Linked DNA regions of Homo sapiens: region 2 is linked to region 1. Evidence: fine-mapped expression QTL. Tissue or cell type: whole blood. Region 1 holds a variant in brackets; the other region holds the start of a gene. All regions are shown on one strand. Distances are between the middles of the regions.

Region 1 (8,107 bases):
TATGTCTATTTGGGCACAACAGACACTGTGTAGGAGTCTTCCCCGCTTCATTTCCTAACCCTTATCTTGACGAGCACACTCATGGAAGAGTCATGGAAGGCGGGACATGTTTGTTTATGTTAGGTAGTAATGTTGGTAGGTGTGCTGCCTTCCCAAGGGAAGAGAAAAACTGGAGGCAGAGAAATAAGAGCCAAGGCCCAAGAGTTACTTCTGTGGAGGCTTCTGGGTAGAACAGCAAGATTCTAATTCATGTTTCTGAAACTGAACTTATTTAATAGAGGAAGCACGTTCTACCTAGCCCTGCAGGGTAGAAAATAAGATCACAGATCACAAAGGAATTGCATAAATGCAATTCCTTGTTTTTTTTCCTTGTAAAGCCTTACTTTTTCCCTTTAAGAGAAAGAGAGGTCCGGAGAGAAGAAACTGAACTAGGCTTCTGTTCTCAAAAATGATCTAAAGCTACAAGTTTTTACTAAAGGATTTCTATGTCAAGTGATTTAAAAGCCAGAGGAGACCTTTAAAAAAAAAAAAGCCCAAAGGTTTAAGTGTATGAGAACAGCACTTCCTGGCAGAAGGATTTCCTGTTTCAGGCAACCACAGCGACGTGGAGAAACATCCGCCTTGTGGCCACAGCCTATGTTCCACAGGCCACTTCTCTGTTCTACTCACCCTTCCTCCCCAACGAAGGTGACATATAGCTTATTTCTCTGCAGGTCTTTTCTGGAGTAGCCCATAATCTGATTAAAAGCATCTTCTAGTAAGTGATCTCTTCGGATAATTAACCTGTCCATAAAGAGACAATTTAGAAAATACAAATTATTACTATACTATTAAAGATAATTTACTTATCTTTCTAGAACATTTCCATTTGCCACAATTAACTAGGTAAGAAGAATGTTACTTAATATCATTGCTGTCTGCAATAAAGTACACATTTGTCTTGAACTCTTAATAGCATTAGCAAAAGTTACATGAGAGAATCATTGGTAGAGTACCCTACCTATGACCAGTGTAAACAACCGGAGAATCCTATCTAAATGGTCAAATCAGTTTATCCCAGAAAAAAAATGATCATAAAACAACACCACACACACCACACACACCGCCCCCCGCCCATACATTTTGTTTAGTAAAGCAAGAACAACTCTATGAGGCAATGTTTTAAGTCTCAATGCATGTAGACAAGGAATTCAATTATTAAGTGCCCAGCAAGATGACTGTGAGAACAAAGAGGAAAAAAAAAATTCTCAATATCCTCCAAAGCAGAGGAGTTTCCAATTGTTAATTGTTAAATTAAGTGAATCTTGACAGTCCCTAAGGGACAGATACAAATGAATGATGAGTGTGGCAGGTTAATCTACTTGTGATGATGCCAATTAAAGTCATCCTTCCATAGATATCAATTTGCTCTTAATGTAAATGGTAATGGGCAGAGAGATGATAGGGAGGCTGAATGCATGACAGCTGGATCATCCTAGACCTTTGTAAGTTAAGTGTGAGAAAAGTAAAGCTCAGAGAAGTATGGTGTTTGGGCAGGCAGATGATTTTTTAGGGCAATGAAGGTGGATTTTAATCAAGCAAGCCTTCCTGCAGGTGGGGCAGTGAGCCATGGGGCTGCTGTTGGTCTGGTCTCTGGACCGTCTCTCAGGCACCCAGGGTCACAGGGGTGCTCCAGTGGAGACCGTCCCTCCTCTGTCCTCTCTCAGTGGCAGACTGATCTCCAGTGGGGACGTGGGACAGGGGTGAAGGCAGGGAGGAGAGAAAGAAGGGTAAGTAGGGAATGGAAACAATTCTAGGCCAAACAACATGATGATGTTTCAGTTTCCCCATTTGAAAGGAGGAGATGGATGAAGAAAGGCCGAAACAACATTCATGACATGTTCTGCTGTGAAGTTTGTTTCACAGAACTGAACAGAGCTGAGCACTATTCCTACACTCAGGTCAGTTCAGGAGACAGAAACTTGCAGTGGAGGACATTGGGATAGCTTTATAGCTAATGAATATACTATGCACCAACAAAGACATACTTTTCAGAGGAAAAAAATAAATCAGCCTTTTATTTTGCCTTTATTTTTGCATGAAAAGTGGCAGTGTCTTCACTATTTGTTTTAAAATGTTAAGCTTAATCATGTTTCATTCCAGGACTATGTTTTAGATGATCCTATAATTTACAAATTCCAAAATAATTATGCCGACTAAAATGAAGGCTAGTCATCCCAAATCACAATCAATTTCCTAGAGGCCCAACTGTGCCCTCTCCTTTCACCATCTATACATTATGTGGTTTGTGTCACTTTGACTTACTTTAACTTCCCTGGGCCTTGTCCATATCCTTTAGTCTCTAACTTCCTGTAAAAGTTCCTCAGTTTGGCTTCGAAATCCCGCTTGTAAGGGGCTGGAGCCCGGGCATTGGCACGCTGGGTACCTGCAGCAAACCACAAAGAGAGGACAATCTGGATTTGTGCCTCGTCCTTATGTTCATCACATCACCATGGACAAAAGCTATCACAATCAACAAGTCAAATGAGGCAACTGTCTTAACTTCTGCATTTTTGATTTCTGCAAGTTGAAGGATATAACAAACCTCAACCAAGGTCTTAAGTGACGTCCTCTTTGTGGCATTTTGGTTGAGAATAAAAATTCTGTTTGAATAGTTACAATGGTGCCCATGTGTTTCTCAAGTATGTTCCCCTTTTCAGTCGAAACTAATATGAGTCAAACAGAGTTACTCATGTCTAGTAGTAACTGTTAGGATGAAATGTCTTTGCTTGCTGCTGAAATGATATCATGGCAATTAGACAGGAAGTTGCAATGGAAAGTACATGGTATATAAGTAAGTGGCACCAAGAGTGAGGTTTTAATCATTCACTCTAAATTCCTCACCAAAAAACTCCTCATGAAACTTTTTTTTTTTTTTTTTTTTTTTTTGAGACGGAGTCTTACTCTGTCACCCAGCAGGCTGGAGTGCAGTGGTGCAATCTTGGCTCACTGCACCCTCCGCCTCCTGGGTTCAAGTGATTCTCCTGTTTCAGCCTCCCAAATAGCTGAGATTACAGGTGCCTGCCACCATGCCCAGCTAATTTTTGTATTTTTAGTAGAGACAGGGTTTTGCCATGTTGGCCAGGCTGGTCTGGAACTCCTGACCTCAGGTGATCCACCCACCTCAGCCTCCCAAATTGCTGGGATTACAGGTGTGAGCCACCGCACCTGGCCTACAAAACTTCTTTTAGATATGCACTATCACCAAGAATGATTTTAGACACATAATTACATAAATCTCATATTGCAGGGTAAAATCTTAATATAACACATAATTGCAAAAGGCACCTGTCTCACTTGCACAAAGTGCGCACTTGCACAAAGAATAAATAATATTAATATTTATTGGATTCTTTTTTTTTTTTTGAGACGGAGTTTCGCTCTTGTTGCCCAGGCTGGAGTGCAATGGCACAATCTCAGCTCACCGCAACCTCCATCTCCCGGGTTCAAGTGATTGTCCTGCCTCAGCCTACTGAGTAGCTGGGATTGCAGGCATGTGCCACCACGCCCGACTAATTTTGTATTTTTAGTAGGGTCATGGTTTCTCCATGTTGGTCAGGCTGGTCTTGAACTCCCGACCTCAGGTAATCCACCTGCCTTGGCCTCCCAAAGTGCTGGGATTACTGGTGTGAGCCACTGCGCCAGACCATTTATTGCATTCTTAACATGTGCCAAGTACTGAGAATATCTAGATTATATAAGCATATTTTATACGTTATTCAATGGTAATTATCACTAATAATATGTAAAAGTAACATTGTTTCTCTTTCCTTTTTTTTGACACGGAGTTTTGCTCTTGTTGCCCAGGCTGGAGTGCAATGGTGTGATCTCGGCTAACCCAACCTCTGTCTCCTGAGTTCAAGCGATTCTCCTGCCTCAGCCTCCCGAGTAGCTGGGACTACAGTCTTGCACCTCCACGCCCAGCTAATTTTGTATTTTTAGCAGGGACGTGGTTTCTCCATGTTGGTCAGGCTGGTCTCGAACTCCTGACCTCAGGTGATCCGCCCACCTCGGCCTTCCAAAGTGCTGGGATTACAGGCGTGAGCCACCATGCCCAGCCAATTGTTCCTCTTTCCATAGAAAAATCTGGTTTTGTGTCACTGGGTAACACAAGCAGCAGGTTGGGATAGAAAACTGATGATGAATATGGAAATCAGACACAGAGCCATGACAAAAACACTGGATATTTCCACTAAATATTTCCCAACCAATGAAAGAAACCAGAAAACAAAAGCTGGGAAGTCTTGTTCATTACATACCATGTAAGTTCATTAAAAATGTCTCTAACAAATGAGTGAACTAAATAGTTGTTATTCATTGGGAATACTATGTTAGGTTCACCAATGGATGTCCAAAATGAGTAAGGTGGGGTTGCTGGAGTGGGTTGGGGAAACAGAAATAAAACATCAAACAATTAGAGAATAATTAAGTCCTGAACTAGGTATACAGACTAGAAAGCAGAGGAAACAAAGCTATACCCCTGGGGCTATACCTAGTCCTATAGATCCCAGTTGCTTGCCCCATAATCTTTTTTGAATATTTTAAATTAATTGCCAACATTTACAAATTAAATTTCAAATTTAAAAATTCCAGATTTTTCTCTTGAAAATTATTTGGGAAATCTTGCAATGACTGGCTTGCATTTCCTTGGGGATCCAGCGGGCAGCTGCAGCTACTCTGTTAGACGAGGCATGAGCTCACCACTTTGCGGCAGCCACTCAATGACATGGCTGCCTGCCCCCCAAGCCCCGCAAGCATTTGTTAAGATCAGTGTTACACAAAAGTAATAGTAATGTTATAAAAAAGAAATGAGTATAAGTAGAGATCAAAGTGGAAAAGGCCTTAGGGAGGAAGCTTAATTGGAACCACACCTTGCAAAAGAAGGAGAATTTATATCCTAAAGTGGAACACAGCAGCAACAGCTGGCATGAGCACTGCATGTGTGTTCAGAAGAC[A/G]CCAAGAGAACCAAGCTAGCCTAGAGTGGAGGAGGAGTGCTGGGAGTAAATGGGAAATGAAATTGATCAGAAGGGTTGGAGCCAAATTATGACAAGAATTTTTAAAACCTAGCAGAGGAGTTTGGGCATGATGCAGTGAACAGTGCCTTTATAGGTTCTTGAGCAGAAGAATAACATACAAATGGTGTTTTATTTAAGAAATTATTTTCAGAGTGTGTTGAGTAAATTAAGGGTGGGCAAGAGGAAAGAGCCCCAGTTAGGAGTTGTTGCAGTAATTGAAGCCTGAGGGGATAAGGACTAGACTGGAGTGAGTGACTCAGAGAAACATCTACAATGTGAAATATGCACTGGGAAAAGAATAGATAAGCAAGAAAGAAGAATGGGAAGCATGATGATAATATAAAGTGTATTTAAACAATAACAACAGGTCTTACTTGTTAAGCGCCTGCTGTACATTACAGATGATGCACGTTACACAGGGGATCTTGAGAAATCCTCACAAGTCTACGAAGCGGGTATTACTAGGACCATCACACACCACTTTGCAACTAAAGAAAATGAAGGTGCAGTTTCCTGTCCAAGTCATATTCCAGTGACAGTAGATTTGGGATTTGAGCCAAGTCTATCTACCTGATGCTATGAAGAGTGTGGGAAGTGATGCAGGTGGACAAGGGCATGTGAAACTTTATACATATTGACTTGGATATGACAGCTAACAAAATGCCCTAGAGACTGAAAAATACAGGGCTGGAATTGGGGTGAGAGCTCAGGGCCACACGTGTGGATGAGCTGAGTTAGTGTGTTTATGGCACTTTATGCAGTGACTGTTGCATAAGAGATCCCACGTAAGTGTTAGCTGTTGTTATCTGCATAGAGGTGAATACTAAAGACAGGGAAATGAATTGAGATTTTACTAATGAATTTGTACAAAACTGGCTATTGACCAATAATCTGTCTGGAGATCTGTTTGTATAGCTGGGCAAAGAGCTGAGTTATGTCATAAAGCAAGTGAATAAACTTGACTTTAAAGATCTGGGAAGCAGAAGAGACTCCTAGGCAGGGGTTCTCAATCTTGACTGCACATTAGAATCACTTAGGAAGCTTTTAAAAATTCCAATGTTCAGGCCACACCCAAGATGCATTACAACAAAATGTGTAAAGACCCAGAATGTGGGGTGGGACCCAGGCATGAGTGTTAAATACAACTGTCCAGATGATTCCAATGTGTAATGTGTAGCTATGGCTGAGAACCACTATTCCCTTATAAGAAGGTCAAACATCACCAGTGAAACACATGGGCAGCATCCAGGGACTAACACAGGGCAAATGTTTCCTGTGTACCGAAAGGCATAATTTGCAACACGAAGGAACATTATCTCCATGAACACAAGGCTGCTCTCCTAGATGAATGAGGGATAGGACCGTGCAGTTCAAGTCCACTCAAGGGTGGCACAATCAGTGTCAGTGCTCCAGTCTGAGAAACTGCAGACTAGAAAACCCAGACAGGGCAGAACGCAGCTGTAATGAATCAACTTTCAAGAGCAAAATCATTGATAAGAGAGAGAAAAATGAAGAACAAGGAACTGAACGAAAATCTTTTAAGACACAAAAGAAACTTTTTTTTTTTCTTTAGACGGAGTCTCACTCTGTCGCCCAGGCTGGAGTGCAGTGGCACGATCTCGGGCACTGCAAGCTCCACCTCCCGGGTTCATGCCATTCTCCTGCCTCAGCCTCCTGAGTAGCTTGGACTACAGGCGTCTGCCACCACGCCCGGCTAATTATTTTTTTGTATTTTTTTAGTAGAGACGGGGTTTCACCATGTTAGCCAGGATGATCTCGATCTCCTGACCTTGTGATCCACCCCCCTCAGCCTCCCAAAGTGGTGGGATTACAGGCATGAGCCACTGTGCCCTGCCAAGAAACATGTTTTTTTAAGAGCTGATTACTTTAAAAAACAGCACAGACACTAACTACTCCTATATAATTTGAGATGCTTAAAAGGACGTGGGAAATGCCATAATGCATTCCATCAATATCAATACAGACACAATAAAAATTAGCTCTGATTCTGTTTATACTCTAGGTAAAGGGATTTAATTATAAAAACTCTGAGACAGCAATTGTTAAATGCAAAAATTCTTTTGCTCATAGTTCCATCATGAAAGAAGTCATTTACACATTATTTCATTTTAAAATTATAGTAAATTGGCTGGGTACGGTGGCTCACGCCTGTAATCCCATCACTTTGGGAGGCTGAGGTCGGTGGATCATGAGGTCAGGAGATCGAGACCATCCTGGCCAACATGGTGAAACCCCGTCTCTACTAAAAACACAAAAATTAGCTGGGTGTGCTTGTAGTCCCAGCTACTTGGGGGGCTGAGGCAGGAGAATCACTTGAACCCAGGAGGCGGAGGTTGCAGCGAGCCGACATCGCACCACTGCACTCCAGCCTGGCAACAGAGTGAGGCTCTGTCTCAAAATAAATAAATAAATAAATAAAATTACAGTAAATTATGCTGTTGGCCTTTGTCAAATTCTTAATACAAGTGAGGTATAATTGCCAAGAAATTCCAGAGCAGGAATGATGTTACTTCCACTTTGGAAATACAAAATGTTCTTGGAAGATTGCGCTAATAAAATTGTGTGAGAACTACAAGTGAAGTTCTAGGTCATAATACTTTGTAGACAGAGGAATTTTATGGTCTTTACAGTCTTAAAGAAAATCAGGTACAAAAGATCAATGTTACATCAAATGAAGGGCTGACTTCATGGATAGTCAGCATTTTGCTAATACTGTGCAGGAAAAAATTTCAGTAACAGACACTAGGGAGTTTTTGCTTTGTCATTGCTAGGCAGGTCTAAAGAACTTCTATATTGTGTTACCCTATTTTCATATACTGTTACAAAATTGCATAATCATATACAAACTAAAGAATTCTATCTGACAAAATATTTCAGAAGACACTAGAAATAGCTTGGCATCCAACTCCCGGGCAGTCTCAGTCTTTTTTGATTCTGGGTGTGTGACCCAGAACCTGGACTGTTCTGATGACTAGCACTGGTTCTCCGTATTGGACAGGGGCTGGATCTTAGCCTGATCCAGCATGGCTCCA
Region 2 (8,095 bases), 350 kb after region 1:
ACATAGTCATCCTACTTATAAAAAAGATACATAGGCCGGTCACGGTGGCTCACACCTGTAATCCCAACACTTTGGGAGGCCGAGGAGGGTGGATCATTTGTCAGGAGTTCAAGACCAGCCTGGCCAACATGGTGAAATCCTGTCTCTACTAAAAACACAAAAATTTGCTGATGGTAGTGGTGCGTGCCTGTAATCCCAGCTACTTGGGAGACGGAGGCATGAGAATCGCTTAAACCCAGGAGGCGGAGGATGCGGTGAGCCAAGATTGCACCACTGCACTCCAGTCTGGGCAACGGAGTGAGACCCTGTCTCAAAAAATAAATAAATAAATAAATTTCTTCTTATTTAGACATGCTGACCAAGCTTTTGAGGACTTCAGTGGAGTGAGTTTGGGAAAGGTGACAGCCATAATTAATTATAACATCCACTGGCCAACATAGTAAGTGAGCTGTGTTACAAACACACAATTCTTTGGTAAAGGAGCATAGCAACTACTGCAGAAGCAAATGCCACAAACTTCATATATCTAAGTTGGGTAAAGAATCCAAACCCTTGCCAGGTCACCTGCACAATCTCAAACCCCCAAGAGAATTTTCATGTGGTGAACAGACACAACAGTTCTCCCTCTCTGCGACCCCTCTGTATGAAAAGCTGAGACCCAAACCAAACACTGGAGACACAAGGGAGTACAGAAAACAAAAGCCCTCCTATTATCCTCATGGCCCTGAGAGCTTGGAAACTAAGAGAATGTGGAATCAAGTCTTCACAACAACACTTGTGTTCTGGAATCTCAGTAAATATCCAAGATCTGGACCAGACACTAGATCTTGAAACTTGCATTCCTACCTCTAAGAGCCATGGTAACCACTAGGTCTGCAAACAGGTTTTGTAGAAACTGCTCTCCCAAATCAAAGGATTTGTCCCAATTAGTGTCAGCTCTAGATATATGGACAGGTGTTAATTCATATTGTGCTTGAAGACAATAATAATATGGGCTTACAGCCACGGCAGATGCTTAGTAACTTAAGAATAAAACTATTTTATTCACTATGTGTGTAAATAGATGACAAGCAATTATCTCATTCTCCTATCTTCCTTCCTCCTATTTCATTTTTTCTTATATATTTTTCAGGTTTAAATTTTTCTGATTTTCTAGCTTTGCATTTAATAAATAAAAGACTGAAATAAGGCAAGACTCAAAATCTGGTGTCGGAAGAGGGGTGATGAAAAAAATTCAGGATTCCTTAATATCTAGGGTGACCAGATAATTATCACCCAAACCAGGACACTTTTACATGTGAAAGGGGGTGCTTTTGATAATTAAGATAAACCAACAGGAGTAAACTGGCACTGTCACAAGCAAAGCAGGGCATCTCGTCACCTTTCTAATCTCTCATTCATATCCTGATACAAAAGGCATCCTGTGTGTAATGAAGCAACCTCTGCCTCTGTTAAATCAATCAAACTTCAAACATAGTCCTCCCTCTTTCAGGCCAGGCCTGGCTTTTGATAACAGAGCTGGAAAGGTTTTCACCCAATGCTGCCATTCCCTATCCAACACACCAAGCAAAACTGGTTCCAGTTTTTCCCAAGAAAGTAGTCAGCAATGCACAAGAATGTGGATCCAGGCCAGGCCCACAGCAAGCCCCAGGCGAGAAGCCTCTGGTTTCTCTTAAAGGAACACTTCACAACAGAGAAAGCCACCTGGTTAGAGGTTACACAGATACCAACCATATAGACTTAACAAGCATTTTGAATGCAAGATCATTTCATTGATGTGTAGGCACATATTAAAACTGGGAAGATCCCAAAAGCCACCTCTCCTGCAAAACACATTCATCTAGGAGAAAACGCCAAAGCATCTGTCCTCAACTACAGGTAACAACCTTGGTTTCTTTGCCTTTGGCTGAAATCAGTGTTGCAAAAGCCTTTTAAAAGAGTAAGAAAATATAGGTTTTTCTCCCAAGATCACATTGCCCAAGTGAAACAGAACCAGTGCTTACTTTTATTTTTTGTCTCCTGTTCAGAGGGGTCAAACATTGCTCATAATCTTCATTAAATTTAGTCCTGTGGCTGGCAAATGTTAATTTACTGGAATATTTTCCTTCACATTCATAAAGAGGGAAAACTAGCTTTGTGATCTGGTTGCAATCTACACAACACATAGATAATCCACAACAGTGGTAGGCGCAGAAAAGCTCCAGCTGGTTTATCTCAAATGTTCAGAATGATTTTGATTTCTTTACCGACACCACAGCCATTCATAAAGATTCATTGCCAAATGTTGCCCAATACCGTGATAGAGGCGATGGTGAAGCGAATGTCTTAGACTGGGAAATCATCATGGTGCCCAAACCTCAGAGTCTGCGGCCAAATGGTGGGGATTTGGAAATCACCTGTCACGGAGATGGTGAAGGAAACTGGATTCAAACTAATGAAGACTAAAGTCTTTCCAGCCAGAAGACGGTTTGAGTCCAAGGGGCCATTTATATACAAGAGCTAAGAAAGGTGCAACTGATTTTCCCCCAGAAGCAGCACGATTATTTTTAAGTTCAAAGACATTTTTGTTAATAAACTGCTTCACACAACCACATCGAAGCCAAAATGTGCCAATGAAATAATCAAAACAAATAGCTCAATTGGGACTTTTTGAATGTTCAACAAAAAGAAAAATTAAAGCTGGTTAGACTGCTGGATAGTAACGTTACAGTGTCTCCTTTAAGAGATCAAAATGTCTTTGCCACCCTCCACCCCACCCTACCCCACCTCTAATAGTGAAGTGGATAATTTCTGAAGAATACAATGACCCTTTATGCCTGGCTTCTCTAGTCTGCTAGGGATGCCATCTGTCTCCCACGCTATATAAACAATCCCCGCAGGAATCTTCTGATGACCAAACAGATTAGCAAACTCCAGATTTTCACGCCATTAATAATATCCCCATCCAGATTAGGCCTTTTATTTTAATAACTCCAAAGATAAAGTCAATAACTGATCTTTCTTTCTTTGTAGATAATGTGTGTGTCATTTTAAAGATAACCTCTTGGAACATACAGCCATCTGTTGGGAAGAGAAAGAAAAAAAGCTCTCTCAAAGCAACAGAAGAAATGAACCCTCGAGGGAATAGGAGAAATAGTAAAAAGAAAATCATATTTATAAGACAAACACATGGAGAGCTCTACTAATTACACTAAAATATTCTTCTTCTAAATGACAAACTATAGAACACTACTCCAGAAAAGACAAGTTTCACACTTTCACAAAGGTATATATATACGAAAACAGTTTGCGTGAGTCTAGGACAGTGAAAGCAGAAATCATAACCCAAAAGCTAAAGGCCCCCGAAGTTTGCATGCTGTCCACCTCTATCTGTAATGATCACAAATGTTTTCCTTCCTGAAGTTTAATATCGATTGAACCCTTGTAACTCTAATTGTGAGCTCTCTGTACTGACTCCAAAGACTTCTAACTCTAAAAGAAATGTGCCTGTAAAGATGTTCTCTAAATTAATAATAATAAACGACGAAAAGCACCCGAGCGCTGCTAATAGTGAAGACAAGGCATGAGAGAGTCAGACCTCTGCAGTCTCGCGTCCTCGGAAACGTCTACGTCTAAATCTGCAGCCCCAGTTTGCTCCAGGCCCCAAGCTCCAGCAGAGGATGTTCACGGCACATTCCCAACCAAAAAGGAAATGAAGCGTCCTCTCCCTCAACTGATGCTCAAATAGACCCCAAAGTCCCAGTTTCCCTGGAGAACCAAACCATCCAACACATCCTGGGCAGCGGAAACCGAAATGGCAAATGAATGACCGCGCCGGGGCGCAAGGGAGGAAAAACAAAGCCACCTCCCGCCGTCCGCTACCTGCGGCGAGGGCCGCGCGCTCACCTGGGCTTTGCGCCCGTCGCCACAAGCTGCGGGTGGGGACCCGGCCGCGGGGCGGGAGGGCGCCCCCAAAGTCGCCCGGACCCGCGGCCCCGGCGCCCTGCGGCCGGTCCGTGCGCGCCGAGGAGAAAGCAGGCGGCCGGGGGCGCCGCCGCGCGTTGCATGCAGCTCACGGCTGCTGCGGCCGCTGCCACGGAGCCGAGAGTCTCTGCGCTGCAGTCCCCGACCCCGAGACCGCGAGAAGCGCCCGGAGAGACGCGGCGCAGGGGCAGAGCGCGCTCGGCGCGCCCCTCAGCGGCTCTTCCCGCCGCCCTCCGCAGCGGGCTGGGTCTCGGCTCGCCTTTGTGCTGGCATCTTCCTAGCTCCCAGCGACACCCAGAGCTCTCGAGGCGGCTCCGCGCCGCCACCCACCCCCGGGTTACGCCACGGCCCCCGCGCGACCCGCCGATTGTGTCGAGTCAGCAGCGGCAGCGGGGACGCGCGAAGCCATGGCTCCCGCCCGCGCTCGGGAGGGCGCCGGGGGTCCTGCGCCTCCGGGAGGTTTGTGGCCGAGCGCGGCGCGGCCCCGAGCGGCCCCGCAGCGCCCGGCTCCCCGCCGCTCGCTCTCCAGGCGCCGACCCGCCTGCGTCGCCACCCTCTCGCCGCTCCCTGCCGCCACCTTCCTCCCGCCCGGGTGCCGGGCGTCCGCTCCAGCCGCGGTGCCCCGGTCCGCGGAGAGCGAAGAGTCCGGCCTCCTCACCTCCAGCCGCGCCGGCGCCCTTCCCGCTAGACGCTTCGGCGGCATCTGCCCGCACCGCCCTGCGGGACGCTGGGCTGGGAGCTGGCGGCACGTCGGGGACCGGTGGAAGGGAGGCGGGGGCAGAGGACAGGAGGGACAGCCAGACCTTGGCCAGCGGGACCTCCCTGAGGAAGGTGCGGAAGAACGGGGCGGGTGCGGCTGGGCGGAGGACGAGTCCCGAGGCTGCGGCGGAGCCTGAGTTGCTCTCCTTCTGCGAAGTCGAAGGACAGGAGGATTCCTAGAGGTGTCGCGGAGGGTGGAGGAGACCCTCTGAGGTCGTGCAGACAACACTGTTCCTCAACCCCACCAGAAAGCTGAATAGGGGAGTGTCATGCCTCGGTTTCCCCAACTGCAAGGGCAAGACGGTAATACTCATGTCGCACACACAGGGTGTGGTCACGATGAAAAAATGGATTATTGAAAGCGTTCCCAGATACTTTGCCTAAAGAGGGCACTAAAATTTAAAATTACTGTATTAATACTTTCGGCTTTCTGTTTACTTCTATAGCATCTTCATCAACCAGTCCCACGTAGGAGAAAAAGTAAAAATGCTAAAGTGTAAATATATTGTGTCCCTCCCCACCCACCCTTGCATCTGTCCAGATTTAGGGAAGATTTATTCAATTTTACAATTTAACTATATCCATATGGAGTAAGTCCCCAAATAATGGATAGCCATTCCTTTGGGACTTTTGAGTGTGTGCTCAATATTATCCATTTCTCCGCCTTTTCTGGTAACAGCAGTTCATTATTCCTATGGGAACTGCCCTTCCCCCTCACCCACAATGAGTCTTTGTGGCTCCAGGGTACTGACACCTCCCACCCTCAACCCCCAGAACTAGCCAGTCATCTTCCGGACCGCAGTGATCGGTTCTGGGTTGGGCATGTTGATCCAGGAACTCGGCCTAGGGCTTTGGATGTATTACTGCAGAAAAATAAGCTCTTTAAACTAGGATAACTAAATTGGAAGGATATAAGCCTACGGTAACAAGGACCAACAGTGCATGCCAATGAAGCCAACTTTGAGGGAAGAAAAGCTGCTGGTGAGAGGGTGATGTCCCACCCTCTCAGGAACCTCAGGAGGTAGATGTGTCTGCAGTGAACTCTACCCTTGAAGCCAATAAATCCTCTCTCTTTTATTTCAAGTCAGTGTCAGCTGTGTTTTGTCACATGTCTCAGAGGAGCCCTGACTTCTTAGTCCCCTGGATCTATCAGCCCAGGCATCACTGTTAGGATCCTCCACAGAATCAAAGAGCCCCACCCCACAAAAGGCCCAATTCCAGTTCTTGCTGGAAGAACAGGGATCCTAGAGGTTTGTTCCCACATGATGTTCTCCTTCACAACTTACTCAAATCCAGCAACCCCACACCTGCAATCCTTAGCTTCTTTGTGTTGATTAACCACTATGTTACATTCTAGTCAAAATGGGCCAGGTGCAGTGGCTCACACCTGTAATCATGCCTGAGGCAGGAGGATCTCTTGAAGCCAGGAGTTTAAGACCAATCTGGGCAACATAGTGAGACCCCACTAACACAGGAACAGAAAACCAAACACTGCGTTTTCTCACTCATAAGTGGGAGCTGAACAATGAGAACACATGAACACAGGGAGGAGAACATCACATCAGGGAGGAGGGGCCTATCGGGGGTTGTGGGGCTAGGGGAGGGATCTCATTAGGAGAAATACCTAATGTAGATGATGGGTTGATGGGTGCAGCAAACCACCATGGCACGTGTATACCTATGTAACAAACCTCCACGTTCTGCACATATATCCCAGAACTTAAAGTATAATACATTAAATAAAGAAAGAAATAAAAATAAAAATAGCCAGGCATGGTGGCCTGAACCTGTAATCGCAGTTACTCTGGAGGCTGAGGCAGGAAGATCAGTTGAGCCCAGGATTTCAAGACTGCAATGAGCTGTGATTGCACCACTGCACTCCAGCTTGAAGACAGAGCAAGACCCTGTCACCTTGTCAAAAAAGAAGAGGAAGAGGAAGAAGAAGGAGGAGGAGGAGGAAAAAGAAAGAAAGAAAAGAAAAACAGAAAAAGAAAGAAAAGAAAAGAGGAGGAAGGGAGGAAGGGAGGAAAGGAGGGAGAAAGAAGAACCCTAAAAATGAATAGAGGCAAAGTGAATCACTATTGCTGCCCTAGGTCTTAAAAAACATTTTTCTCTCACTTTAAAAGCAGCCCCTACTACCTTTAAAACTTTCTACATATCGACCATTAAAACCGAGACTAAGGCATCAAAGAACATTAATAGCAAAGTCATCCTAAAAATCTCAAACTTGCAAAGGTGTGTAAAGATTAGGTAGGTTCTTTCACACTGCACTCCCCGTTCGTCATCACCACCACTCTCCTTCACAAGATCTCTGACCGGGTCTCACTTATCCTCTCCTGGAGCCATTCCCTTAAAGAGAACTCAGTACTTTACAAGCTGGTCAATTCTGCATTGAAACTGGCCTGACATTAGGAAGTGATCCCTTATATTGAGTTGAAATATTTCTTCCACCTGAGAGTACTCCAAGCACTGAAGACAAACTTGTGAACCACTTGAATTGTCTCTTTTCCAAGATCTTTGCATGACCCATAAGTCATGCAGGACACATGGCAATGTGTCCTGACCCTTCATCATCCTAGGTTACTTCCTTTCTACAGATGTGCCAAGGTTTGTGACTGCTCCTTCTAAAGCATATGGCCAAAGCTAAACCCAAAGGCAGATTCCAAGAAACTTATACTCCAGCCCTCTTCCAACAACACAGAAGGAGCCTGAGAGACATGTTCATGTGGTCTTATATTTTTATAAAAGCTTCCAAAGTAAGATATTTTAATCTCAAGCGATTTGCAGTGGACTGAATGTTTGTGCTCCCCCAAATTCATGTGTTGAAATCCTAACCCCTAATGTGATGGTATTAGGAGGTGGGGCCTTTGGGAGGTGATGGAATAAATGCCCTTATAAAAGAAACCCAAGAGAGCTCTCTCACCCTCTTTCTGCCTCTTGAGGATACAAAGAAAAGATGGCAGTCTGCAACTGGAAGAGGGCCTTCCCACCCACATCACAACCACACTGGCACCCTGATCTCATTCTTCTGGCGTCCAGAACTGTGAAAAATAAATTTCTGTTGTTCATAAGCCACCCAGTCTAGGATGCTTTGTTATTGCAGCTTGAATTAAGACAAGACTGCTGTCCCTTTTCATTCTAACTTCCGTGTTGTCCTAATTCCCCTTGTTCCGAAAGAAGTGGAGTGATTGTGGACATTTGTGGGGATCTGGCTAAAGGGAAGTTGAATTGGTTAAGTGGAATACATTTATGTGGTCTGTGGGCATTAAAGTTGTGACAGTGATGTCTATTTTGACTGTGCAAAGACAGTCACTTGGGCCCTTCAGTGTTGTGACACAAAGGTAAAGGGATGGAAATTATACCACCAAGTATT

The links. PIP is the estimated chance that this variant, and not a neighbour inherited with it, causes the effect.
Region 2: HECW2 starts here. The variant in region 1 is fine-mapped to the expression of HECW2 in whole blood (INTERVAL, PIP above 0.99).

What each region holds. Positions count from the first base shown.
Region 1 is chr2:196,239,780-196,247,886 of GRCh38, forward strand. HECW2 (HECT, C2 and WW domain containing E3 ubiquitin protein ligase 2) reads right to left here. Exons shown (of 29, transcript NM_001348768.2): 20 at 2,305-2,425; 21 at 670-783. Among named protein-coding and RNA genes, the nearest start is that of HECW2-AS1, 16 kb to the right of the region's middle. RefSeq lists an enhancer at 1,430-1,479. The variant A/G (reference allele first, on the strand shown) is at 4,995.
Region 2 is chr2:196,588,887-196,596,981 of GRCh38, forward strand. HECW2 (HECT, C2 and WW domain containing E3 ubiquitin protein ligase 2) reads right to left here and starts at 4,668. Exons shown (of 29, transcript NM_001348768.2): 1 at 4,622-4,668. RefSeq lists silencers at 3,897-4,276, 4,357-4,626.